3 linked regions of the Homo sapiens genome follow. The protein of the gene in region 2 interacts with the protein of the main gene of each other region in a pairwise test. Each region holds a gene or a part of one and is shown on either strand. Other genes may lie near its edges.

Region 1 (3,500 bases), on a different chromosome or scaffold from region 2:
TTTATCTTTCTATCCTAGAAAGACACTCAATGACTTCTGTGGTAGGCATTCACATCTGTTGGACCAAGTTGAATTACACTTCTTATACTGTAGGATTGAAACCATGGCTAATTTATTAGCAGTGTCCCTTTGAACAAATTACATCTTGGGGGCTCAGCTTTCTCTTCTCCAACCTGGATGATAAAAAATATTGCTAATGAGCATGAGCATGTACAGTGGACCCTTGGACATCATGGGTTTGAATGGTGTGGATCCACTTTTGTGTGAATTTCTTTCTTCCTTTTTTTTGAGACAGGGTCTTGCTCTGATGCCCAGGCTGGGGAACAGCGGTGTGATCATAGCTCATTGCACCCTTGACTGCCTGGGCTCAACTGAGCCTCCCATCTCAGCCTCCTAAATAGCTAAGACCACAGGTGCATGCCACCATGCCTGGCTAATTTTTCTATTTTTTGTATAGATGAGATCTCACTATGTTGCCCAGGCTGGTCTCAAACTCCTGGGCTCAAGCAGTCCTCCCTCCTCAGCCTCCCAAAATGCTGAGATTACAGGCATGTGCCATTGTACCTGGCCAGGATTTTTTTTCAATAAATACACTGGAAAATGCTTTGGAGATTTGCAACAATTAAGACAAACTTGCAGATGAATGTGTTACTTAGAAATATTGAGAAAATTTAGAAAAAATTAGGCATGTCATGAATGGATAAAATATATGTAGATACTAGTCTAGTCTATTATTTACTATCATAAAATACATATAAATCTACTATGAAAAGTTAAAATTGATGAGACTTAAACAAATATAGACCATACATGGGCCTATTTGCAGTTGAGAGAAATGTAAAGGTGAAGTATTAAATCATAATTGTATAAAATTAACTGTAGTCCATACTGTACTACTCTAATAATTTCATAGCCACCTCCTATTATTGTGGTGAACTCAAGTGTTGTGAGCATCCGTTTAAAATGCTCTGTGATACTAATCATCCTCACCATCTCTCCAGTAAATTGCATAGTGCAGTAAAAAGTGATCTCTTGCAGTTTCACATTTAAAAAAAATCATGTTTAGTGCAATACTGTAAACCTTGAATAACATCATGCACCCATACAAAGTGCCACCAGTGATGCTAGCAGTGCTCCCAAAAAGCAAAAAAAAGTCACGACATTTCAAGAAAAAGTTGAATTGCTTAATGTGTACTGAAGATTTCAGACTGATGATTCATCTTGTAAACAAATGATATAAACTGATGGTATCAATAAATACAGCATAGTATTATAAATGTATTTTATCTTCCTTATGATTTTCTTAATAACATTTTCTTTTCTCCAGCTTACTTTATCATACGAATACAGTAAATAATACATAAAACATAGATGTTAATGGACTTTTTATGTCATTAAGGCTTCCAGTCAACAGTAGGCTACTAGTAGTTAAATTTTGGGGGAGTCAAAAAATTTTCAGCTGCATGGGGGTTGACACCCTAAATCTCCATGTTGTTCAAGGGTCAACTGTACTTTGTTCCACTCATTAAACTTTGACAACATCAAGATTAACAATATCAACTATAAAGTGTGTACTATTATTAGCTCACTTTTCCAAATGAGAAAAGCAGTCAGAAACGATCTGGGGAATTTGTCTGAAGTCTTAGTACTAATAAATGGAGAAACCAGAGTCTGAATGCTAGCAACCTGGAGTCAGAGTCCACACTATTCATCACTTACTATTCAATTTGCTGAGATCAAATGAGTTTATACACATAATGTGCTTGGAATAATGTTTTGCAAAACGAAGGGCTCATTAGTTTATCTTGCAATTATTGTTACCGTATGAGAACTTGGCTTGCTTCTGGGATGCTTAATAGTTTTTAAGTTGCATTTCTGAAGATTCATTTCTATGAGTTTAATAACTGTCTTTTCTTTAACAGATGCACATTTACTATGATTTTGTAACTGGCTGGCTTTAATCTCTTGGTTGATCTCTTTACTGCTTGGGTTATGTTTGCTGTATATGCAGCATGAAACCTAGGGCTGCTACCAGCATAAATCTTTAAATTCCAGAAAATGAATGATTCCCATCACCACTGAGAAAAATGCATCAGCAACCAGAGGTGAAGACAACGATTCTATGGAGGCTTTTCTTTTGTCCTTCCCTGACTGGTAATGCTGTCTATCCTTCTACAGCCTGGGAAGAAGAGGAGGAGGCTGCCAGGCAGTGTGGGGAAACCAAACTGTTTTTCTCTCAACCAGTATCACTCAATGATTACCAGCTTTGTACCTATTGTGGTGCTGTACTTCCCAATTTTTATTGAGCTGAGTCTTCTGTATTCAGTTCATATCGTGAATTCTCAGGACATTAGAATTATCCATGTTCAAATAGAAATTTGCAAAGTTAAAACAAACATATTTCCAGATTAATCATAACTTTGAATACCTGGCAATGGTTCTCTGTCATCTGTTTGGATAATTGACACTTGTCTTTTAAAATCAGTATTTACATAGTAAGATAGGGCATTGATTTTGATTGTTTTGAACTACAGACTCACATTTTTGACCTCAGGTTTCTCAATTGGAAAATGGATAATCTCACCAATTTTACTTGGTTCTTAAGCCCTCCCTTTCCAGCTACAAATGGTATCAGAAATAATGACACTTCAGTGCAAAGGAAAGTTACAGGATCAGAGCAATGTGAAATGTTCCTGTAGATTGAATTATTATGTTGCCAGACTAAATGCTCTGAAAAGCTCAAATGAGAAAAATAATTCATTTTAAAATGATGGCATTCCTGAGCGCAAACATTCTAGGATCTCCTGTACAAGAATGCACTGAGGGGCCTTCACCTGGGGATATTTGAAGTAGAGCATGAGGTTACTCTGTATATCCTTAAAGGATCTGGGAGGAGCTGAAACAGACTTATGTTCAATGAGCATCTGTGATTTCCACCTAACTTACTTCTGAAGCATATGAAAATTCCACCCCATGCAATATTTGACACAGAAAGTACTGCCCCTTTATTATATAAAAGAATTAGCTTCTTTTAAAAAAAAAAAAAAGTCTGGAATCTCCTTGTAGATGTCTTCCTGGTATTTGGAGAATGCCCCTATGATCACCCTACTTATATGCTGTAGGACTTTATTTATGATGGCTGTCCCATTCCAATTTTTATATTTCTATTTAGAAAATTCTAAATTTGCTGGAGTGCCCAACATATGTTACATGTTTGTCCTTGTGAGAAGGCCAGGATGACCACCAAAGAGCCAGTAAAAGTTTAGAAGGAGCTGTTCAGCCCATCTTCTGAACGCTCCGGGAATCTCTTCAACTTCAGACCATGCCAGGTGACTTTTAGAACCCAGTTCATACTTCCAGCCTGTTCTGATCCTAGGTTTGAACAGTTCTCTTACTATCCTTCAGGTGAGGCAATCAGGTCACAGAGCTGGTGAATGGCAAAACCCTGTTAGAACTCAAAGTCTTAGCTCTCAAATGCTGTGTTTTCTCACTGATAGAAG
Region 2 (3,500 bases):
GCAGCAGGAGGTGGGGCTTAGATCCAGTTGACTGACTAGTATGGAGCTCCTCCTTGGTTAAGCCGGTTGCCAGAAGACAGAACTGGAGGGGAAAGTAGCTCTGCTCATGCCGTCTTTCCATTTCCGTAGAGGAGAGAGGCAGTCAGTCCTCCTCTCAGCCTCTTGGCTTCCTTCGTCCTAATGATCACCCTGAAAGGTGCACAGTGCACCTTTGCCGGCGTGATCTCATTTAATCCTTAGTACAGCTGAGTGGTAGCCATTACTGTTCCCATTTTACAGATGAGGAAACATCAGAAAAACAAGACAACGCACTGGGGGTTCCGTAGCCATAAGAGACAAGCCAAGTGAGAAACAGACCCAGCCCCTCTGGCCCTAGTGTGCATCGTCTCCTGGGTGCCTGGCCTTTCCTCAGCTGCTGTTCCAAGTTATTGTTAGAACAACCTCTTATTCCATGAACGTCAAACCACTTCCTTCCCCTGGTTGCCCGTTCAAACCTTTTTGGGCCATAGATAGTTTGGGCAGCAAATGGAACTCCCTGTGTTTACCCACCTATTCTTTGCCCCAGCCACTACCAGTCCAGATGGGAAGAAAGATGGTCCTGGGTGGGACACCAGGCGGAGAAAAGCTGGGTTAACTAAAGGGCAAATCAATAATTCATACACAAAACCAGAGTACAAAAACCACTGCCTCCATTTATTCCACCTCAAATTGCCCTCTGGGGAGTCTTGTGGTCCACCCTAAACCCACCAAGTGGGGAGGTGGTGGTGGGAGCGGGAACACATGTAACTCCTCTTACACCCCATATCCTATTGTGTAGTTTTAAAAAGTCAGTGTTTATGGGCTTTGCCAATTTTGAATACAGTTTGTCTAAGAACACGTGTTTCCTACAGCGCTGAGAGCTTAATAAAAGAATTGCAACGTGGGGGAAGGTGGCACAACAAATGTAATTGTTGACCTAACAACAGAGAAAGGAGCAGATCTTTCTAATGAGTTCATTAGGTGCTTCCTAAAAGATCCCGGACTGCACACCAGCACCCACTTATGTAGCACAAGGTGCAACTCCGAGGGGCGTCCTAGAAGAGCTGCTGCTCTTCGCCCACCAGGGAGTTCTAACTGTATTGTATGCAAGTTTAAGTATAATAATATTGGCCCAGTTTGAAAGAAGTTAAACTTTTTCTTGGGTTTCTAATAAGGTAAATGGTATTTCCACCTTCTCAGAGGAGAATTCAAAGGTTTTTTTGATTCTGTTTTCTCAGTCATCCATTTGAGGCCTGGTCCTTGGCATTCCTCAGTGTGGCAGGGAGCTAGCTCCCAAGCCACCTGGCATATGCTGGCCACGGTGAAGCCATCTCAACGTTGCTCACCCCCACTTGTGGGCCCCCTGAAGTTATGCTTTTGAAGAGTGTCCTAAGAACAGATTATCCTATTTTTAATTATGTATTGAGCCCATCGAAAACCTGGAGTTGTAAGGAGAATCATCTCTAAGAGGGAATACAAACATCTCCATCTTTTTTTCTCTCCCAATTCTGAATGGCGCCAGTGTGAGCTAGGGTAGTATTCACACCAAGGGGTGGCGTTTATCTCTGCATATGTAAAGCTGCAGTGCTCCACCTGAAGGGATAAATTCTTGGCCACTTCTGGTGGGTCACTACTTTATTCAAAGATGTTTGGGGTCTGCCCATTGCCTCCTGGGCAGGTGGCAGGCAACTTTGTGAGACCTGCAGTGCCTCTGATCCTTGGTCCCAGCCTGTGTTTCCAACCTTGCCTCGCACCACCCTAACATGAGCCCCAGGCTCAGCAAGGGTGTCTTCTCATGGTCTCCCAAACTGGCCATGGTACAAGCAATTCTGATCCTTTGAGACTTAAGTGCGCTGTGGATCACTGCACCCCTACAACCGCAAAAAACCCAAACACAGAGTTTGTCAAGAATTTGGTGGCTTCCCAGGCTCTTGGAGCCCTCCCTGGGTTCCCCTTAAAAGCCCTGTCTGCCTAAAACACTCTTGTCCTGTGCCTCTTCATGCCTCATCCTCCCAGTCATTTCTGGTCCCTGTGTCACTCATGCCCAGGTTGGCACTCCTCACTCTCTGCACTGTCGCTGCAGTGAAACTCAGCCCTTTCCTGCCACACCTCCCCATCAGCACAGCCAGGTGCCCAACTCCCACCTCGGGTCTCGTGCAGCGGCCCGTGCTCCGCAGATCTGGCTCTCACTTACACATTGCCCCGGGCAGGGTTGGTTTCTAATTCATGTGTATCTTGTCTCTGTAGTGTGCCTGCCAGCTTCTCCACAGCTGGCCTGGGTCGTCGTCTTTGTGGCCCCTCACCGTCCCCTAGTGGAGCACTCTTTCTATAGTAGGTGCTCAAGAAATACATTTTCAACTCAATTGAAGGGAATAGGCTCCCATAACAGAATGAACTCATTTCAGAAGTTCATTACCAAGTCTTGAAAACCTTTTTTTATAGATCCTCCTGGACCGAATCCAGCTCTACCTTAATTAGCAAAGCAATTTGCAACACCCTTTCCCAAAAGTGCTTATGCGTCCCTTTGTGTGACTAGAATAGGGGCCGCTGTACCAATTGCTGTCACCACCCAAAATTCAATTTGCAAAATCGAAATCAGTGCCTGCAGCACTGATGTAGATTTGTATGTATAAAAGTTTAATATGGTAAAGAGAAATTTACTGACGACTGAACAGGGGAAATGCAAAAGGAGCAAAAATAGAGCTATAAAGGACACTCGTCAGATGAACATCTATTTTATTCACATTTGGGGAGCAGTGCTGAATTTTTCATAATGTCCCCACTGCTGCCTTTTCAAACCCAGCACTGCTATTAGTCCTAAAACGTCTGTGATCTCATTAGGTGTGAATGCAAAATCAGGTAATTTAAAGCATGTATTAAGAATATTTCTAAAAATGCACCGTCCATTTCATCAGAAAAACTGCATTTCAGAGCTCAGGAATGTTAGTGCTGGAGTCTGTGAATAAAGTGTAAGCTATAGGAACGTGGTGAGGCTTCTGGAATTCGACAGATGTCTCCACTGACATCCTTTTAAGTAGTAAGCATGACTTTTTTAATTGCTGAGCTTGAGTTATCTGTGGCTAGGAACCCAGCATTGACCAAGGCTTCATCACTCCTCAAGCAGTAAGAACTTGGCTAGAAATGGGCATGTCTCAAACTCCTGTCACCTCCACTGAGCTGCTTTTACAGCCTCAGTTAGACACCTTCTGACCTCAGACGGGAAACTGGATGGCAAGTCTGTTTTAGGACTCAGGTGTTTGGTTTTCTTTCTCAGGTTACAGCTGAGTCCAGGAATTCTGGGAACTCTCTAGGAGACTGTCTCTTTCACACAGGAAGTTTCAGAAGTGAGAGTGGTCGGGTGCGGTGGCTCAAGCCTGTAATCCCAGCACTTTGGGAGGCCGAGGTGGGCGGATCACAAGGTCAGGAGATTGAGACCATCCTGGCTAACACGGTGAAACCCCATCTCTACTAAAAATACAAAA
Region 3 (3,500 bases), on a different chromosome or scaffold from region 2:
ATAAACTGAAAAGCAGAAAGGAAAACTGGCATTCTAGGCTCTTAACCATCTGGTGCTAACGGACTCTTTCTTGCCTAGCTCTTTCACTACTCATTTTTCCCTGTCTATGCTTGTATGCCTTTGATCACCCTGGCCCCTGGCCCAGAAAGGCCTTTCTCTCATACTAGTTGTCCTATTTCCACATGTCCAAATCCTACCCATTCTTCAAAGCATAGTTCAGGGGCCGGGCGTGGTGGCTCACAACTGTAATCCCAGCACTTTGGGAGGCCGAGGCAGGAGGACAGTTTCAGTCCAGAAGTTCAAGAACAGCCTGGGCAACATAATGAGACCCCGTCTCTACAAGTAATGAAAAATTAGCCAAGCATGTTGGTGTGTGCCTATATAGTCCCAGCCACTTGGGGGCTGAGGCAGAAGAACTGTTAGAGGCCAGGAAATCAAGGATGCAGTGAGCTGTGATGGCACCACAGCACTCAGTTTGAGTAACGGGAGTGAGATGCTGTCTCCAAATTAAAAAAAAAAAAAAAAGTAGTTCAAATGTCACCTCTTCTTTTATCCTTAAAACTAAAAGTAGACCGGGCACGGTGGCTCACGCCTGTAATCCCAGCACTTTGGGAGGCTGAGGCGGATGGATCACCTGAGGTCAGAAGTTCAAAACCAGCCGGGCCAACATGGCGAAACCCCGTCTGTACTAAAAATACAAAAATTAGCCTGGTGTGGCAGTTGGCGCCTGTAATCCCAGCTACTCAGGGAGGCTGACGCAGGAGAATCACTTGAACCTGGGAGGCAGAGGTTGCAGTGAGCCGAGATTGTACCACTGTACTCCAGCCTGGGTCAAAAACGAAAAACAAACAAACAAACAAAAATAAAAGTAATCTCTCCCTCCTCTCTAAACTCTTATAGTTCCTTATCTTTATCTTTTTACCACCCATTACTTTCTGCCTTTCATTATCACTGTTGTTTCCATATTTAATCCCCCACCTAAGCATAAAGTCCTCAGGGTCAAGGTCCATCTTTATTCAAACTGATTAACACAATCCCTTATACACACTAAGTGAGGTTAGGAAAGAAGCCCACCAGAAACAACTCCAGATTGAGTCCAGAGCCCTGGCTTTGCTAATAACTCACTATCTGACCTTGGCCTTGAGGCTCTTAGTATGTTCCTTCACTTACAAAGTTAAGAGGGTAGGCTAAACTAGTTGTATTTGTTGTTAAATGTAGGCTATAATCCATTAGCTGGGTGTAAAATTAATTTGGAAGTCAAAACCCAGCATTTTTAAAATGAAATGAAATAACAGAATATATCAATGTGTGTTATAAGCAGTGGGGTGCTATAAATGTTTAACAACTACCTATGAGGAGGGAAGCCCTAAGAATACCATTTGCTGAATTTCCTGGTGTAAATATTCCCACCATGACCAATTTTGAGCTACCAACATGATGTCACTGGACAAAGAGCTAGATAGGAAGAAATATGCACAACTGGTCTTGCAAGCCATTATAGCTAACTCAGTAGGGCCCTGAAAAGATAAATATTATTTCACCAAACTTTCAACTTTGTGTGTGTGTGCGCTTGCGGAATCAAGTAGTAAAATGTATTTTTTATTGTGGGTCACAGTCAAATGAGTTTAATAAATGTTCAGGTAAACAATCTCCTGGTGTCCTTCATGTATACTACATAATTTGATAAATCTTACTCTTGGTTACAGATGTCTCTTCACCACAATTCATATTTTTCTTCAAAAATGGGAGTAACAAACTGATATCACCAGAAGGCAAATTACACAGAGCAGGAATTTGGTTTATGGAATATCAGCCAAGTGCCAAGGTTTTTAGCATTTGTTCAGCCCTACATACCTGAAGGATATAACACACTCCTACTATCAATGGCTCACTTAGCAATGGGTTGGGGGGCAGGTAGGGGGTAAGAGGAGGAAATCCATAGTATAAAAAAAAAATCCAGATAATTCTAGTATTTGTGCTCATGTTCCCACCCCACTGAATACCCAGATACACAGAAAATTAGAGCAGTAAAAAGTAAATGTTCCATGCCTGATGTTTCCCAATCAAATTCCCTTGCATCCCTCAATGAGACTTCCATTACTAAGAATCACCTACTGGAACTAAGCTTTTACCATGGACTAGGGATGCATAGTTCTTGCTGAATTTAGAACAGGCAACAGGGAAAATAACACAGCAAACAGTTGTTAGGCTTCATATTCTGGGAAAATCAGCCTTTTATTAAAAAAAAAAACTGTCTTATTTTCCTCTTATTTAAGCTTACTAAACTGGGTGAGAATTTTCTTAAATATATTTTTGGCTGTACTATGTCTATCACAACACAGCCTGTAACCAGATTTTTCATGAGTATTTATAAAGAATTGTGTTGTTGTTGGGTTTTTTTTTTTTTTAAGCCCAACAGCACTGGCAAATGTTTTCTACTTTAAAAGCTATTTAGAAAATAAGAAGGCTCAGAATTTCAAGTATACTAATAATCTTAGCCCAAATCTAACTCTAAATCAACTGAATATATGCCTAGAACTTTCCCAGGAAAATCCCCAAAAAGTACACCAAAAAACACCAAAAGATAACAAAAAAGAGTTAGCATGCGCATAAACTTCGTATACCCAATTATGCCATCCCATCTGTTGAATAAGAGCAATATGGGAAGTAAACGAAGTATAAAAAGAAGATGTTCAGAGATGCAAGCTCTTCTTAATTCATTAACTCTTCCTTATTAGGGTCCACTGATGTTCACATACTTATACCCAATTCAAATACTGACTATAAAGTCAAAATTATTTCCCGTTCTGAAAGTCTAGGAGTCAAACAATGTCTTTCTCTATAATATCAGCATTAAAACTCTCCTTTAAAAATGAGTATGTTTTACCATAACTCAGGCTCAAGTCCGTACTTTCTCCGCCTCCACTGTTTGTAATGGCAAAATGCTCATCAGATCATCTCCACAAGAAACCCCTGAGCCATCTTTGAAATACCAGCACCTGGTGCGCTGCACCCACTAACTCATCATCTAGCATTAGGTATATCTCCCAATGCTATCCCTCCCCCCTCCCCCCTCCCCACCACAGTCCCCAGAGTGTGATATTCCCCTTCCTGTGTCCATGTGATCTCATTGTTCAATTCCCAGCATGGCACATGTATACATATGTAACTAACCTGCACAATGTGCACATGTACCCTAAAACTTAAAGTATAATTAAAAAAAAAAAAAAAAAAAAAAAAAACAGAAAGAGAAAAAAAAAAAAAAAGAAATACCAGCACCTGGAATAGCCTTGGGCTGCTGGTCATCCTCAGACTCAACGGCTGACCCATTTATATAAGTCAAGAGTTATAAAAATATAGAACTCATTAAAATTAAGACATAAGCAAGCTCTGTGCCTGGGAATCCCATAGGCTTACAGCAACAACTTCATTCTCCAAACCCCCTCTAACCAGTCATAATGATCCATACCCCACTTGAAGACAATGGTAGGTTGGAATGC

What was found. The genes of interacting proteins can lie anywhere in the genome.
Region 1: the proteins of UQCC2 (region 2) and SNAP25 interact in a two-hybrid assay, tested with the Homo sapiens proteins (one large-scale study listed by BioGRID and IntAct).
Region 3: the proteins of UQCC2 (region 2) and RABGAP1L interact in a two-hybrid assay, tested with the Homo sapiens proteins (one large-scale study listed by BioGRID and IntAct).

What each region holds. Positions count from the first base shown.
Region 1 is NC_000020.11:10,302,330-10,305,829, reverse strand, and holds part of SNAP25 (synaptosomal-associated protein 25), read right to left. Parts: intron 1-3,500.
Region 2 is NC_000006.12:33,705,201-33,708,700, reverse strand, and holds part of UQCC2 (ubiquinol-cytochrome c reductase complex assembly factor 2), read left to right. Parts: intron 1-3,500.
Region 3 is NC_000001.11:174,162,520-174,166,019, reverse strand, and holds part of RABGAP1L (rab GTPase-activating protein 1-like), read right to left. Parts: intron 1-3,500. UniProt on the Homo sapiens protein: GTP-hydrolysis activating protein (GAP) for small GTPase RAB22A, converting active RAB22A-GTP to the inactive form RAB22A-GDP. Plays a role in endocytosis and intracellular protein transport.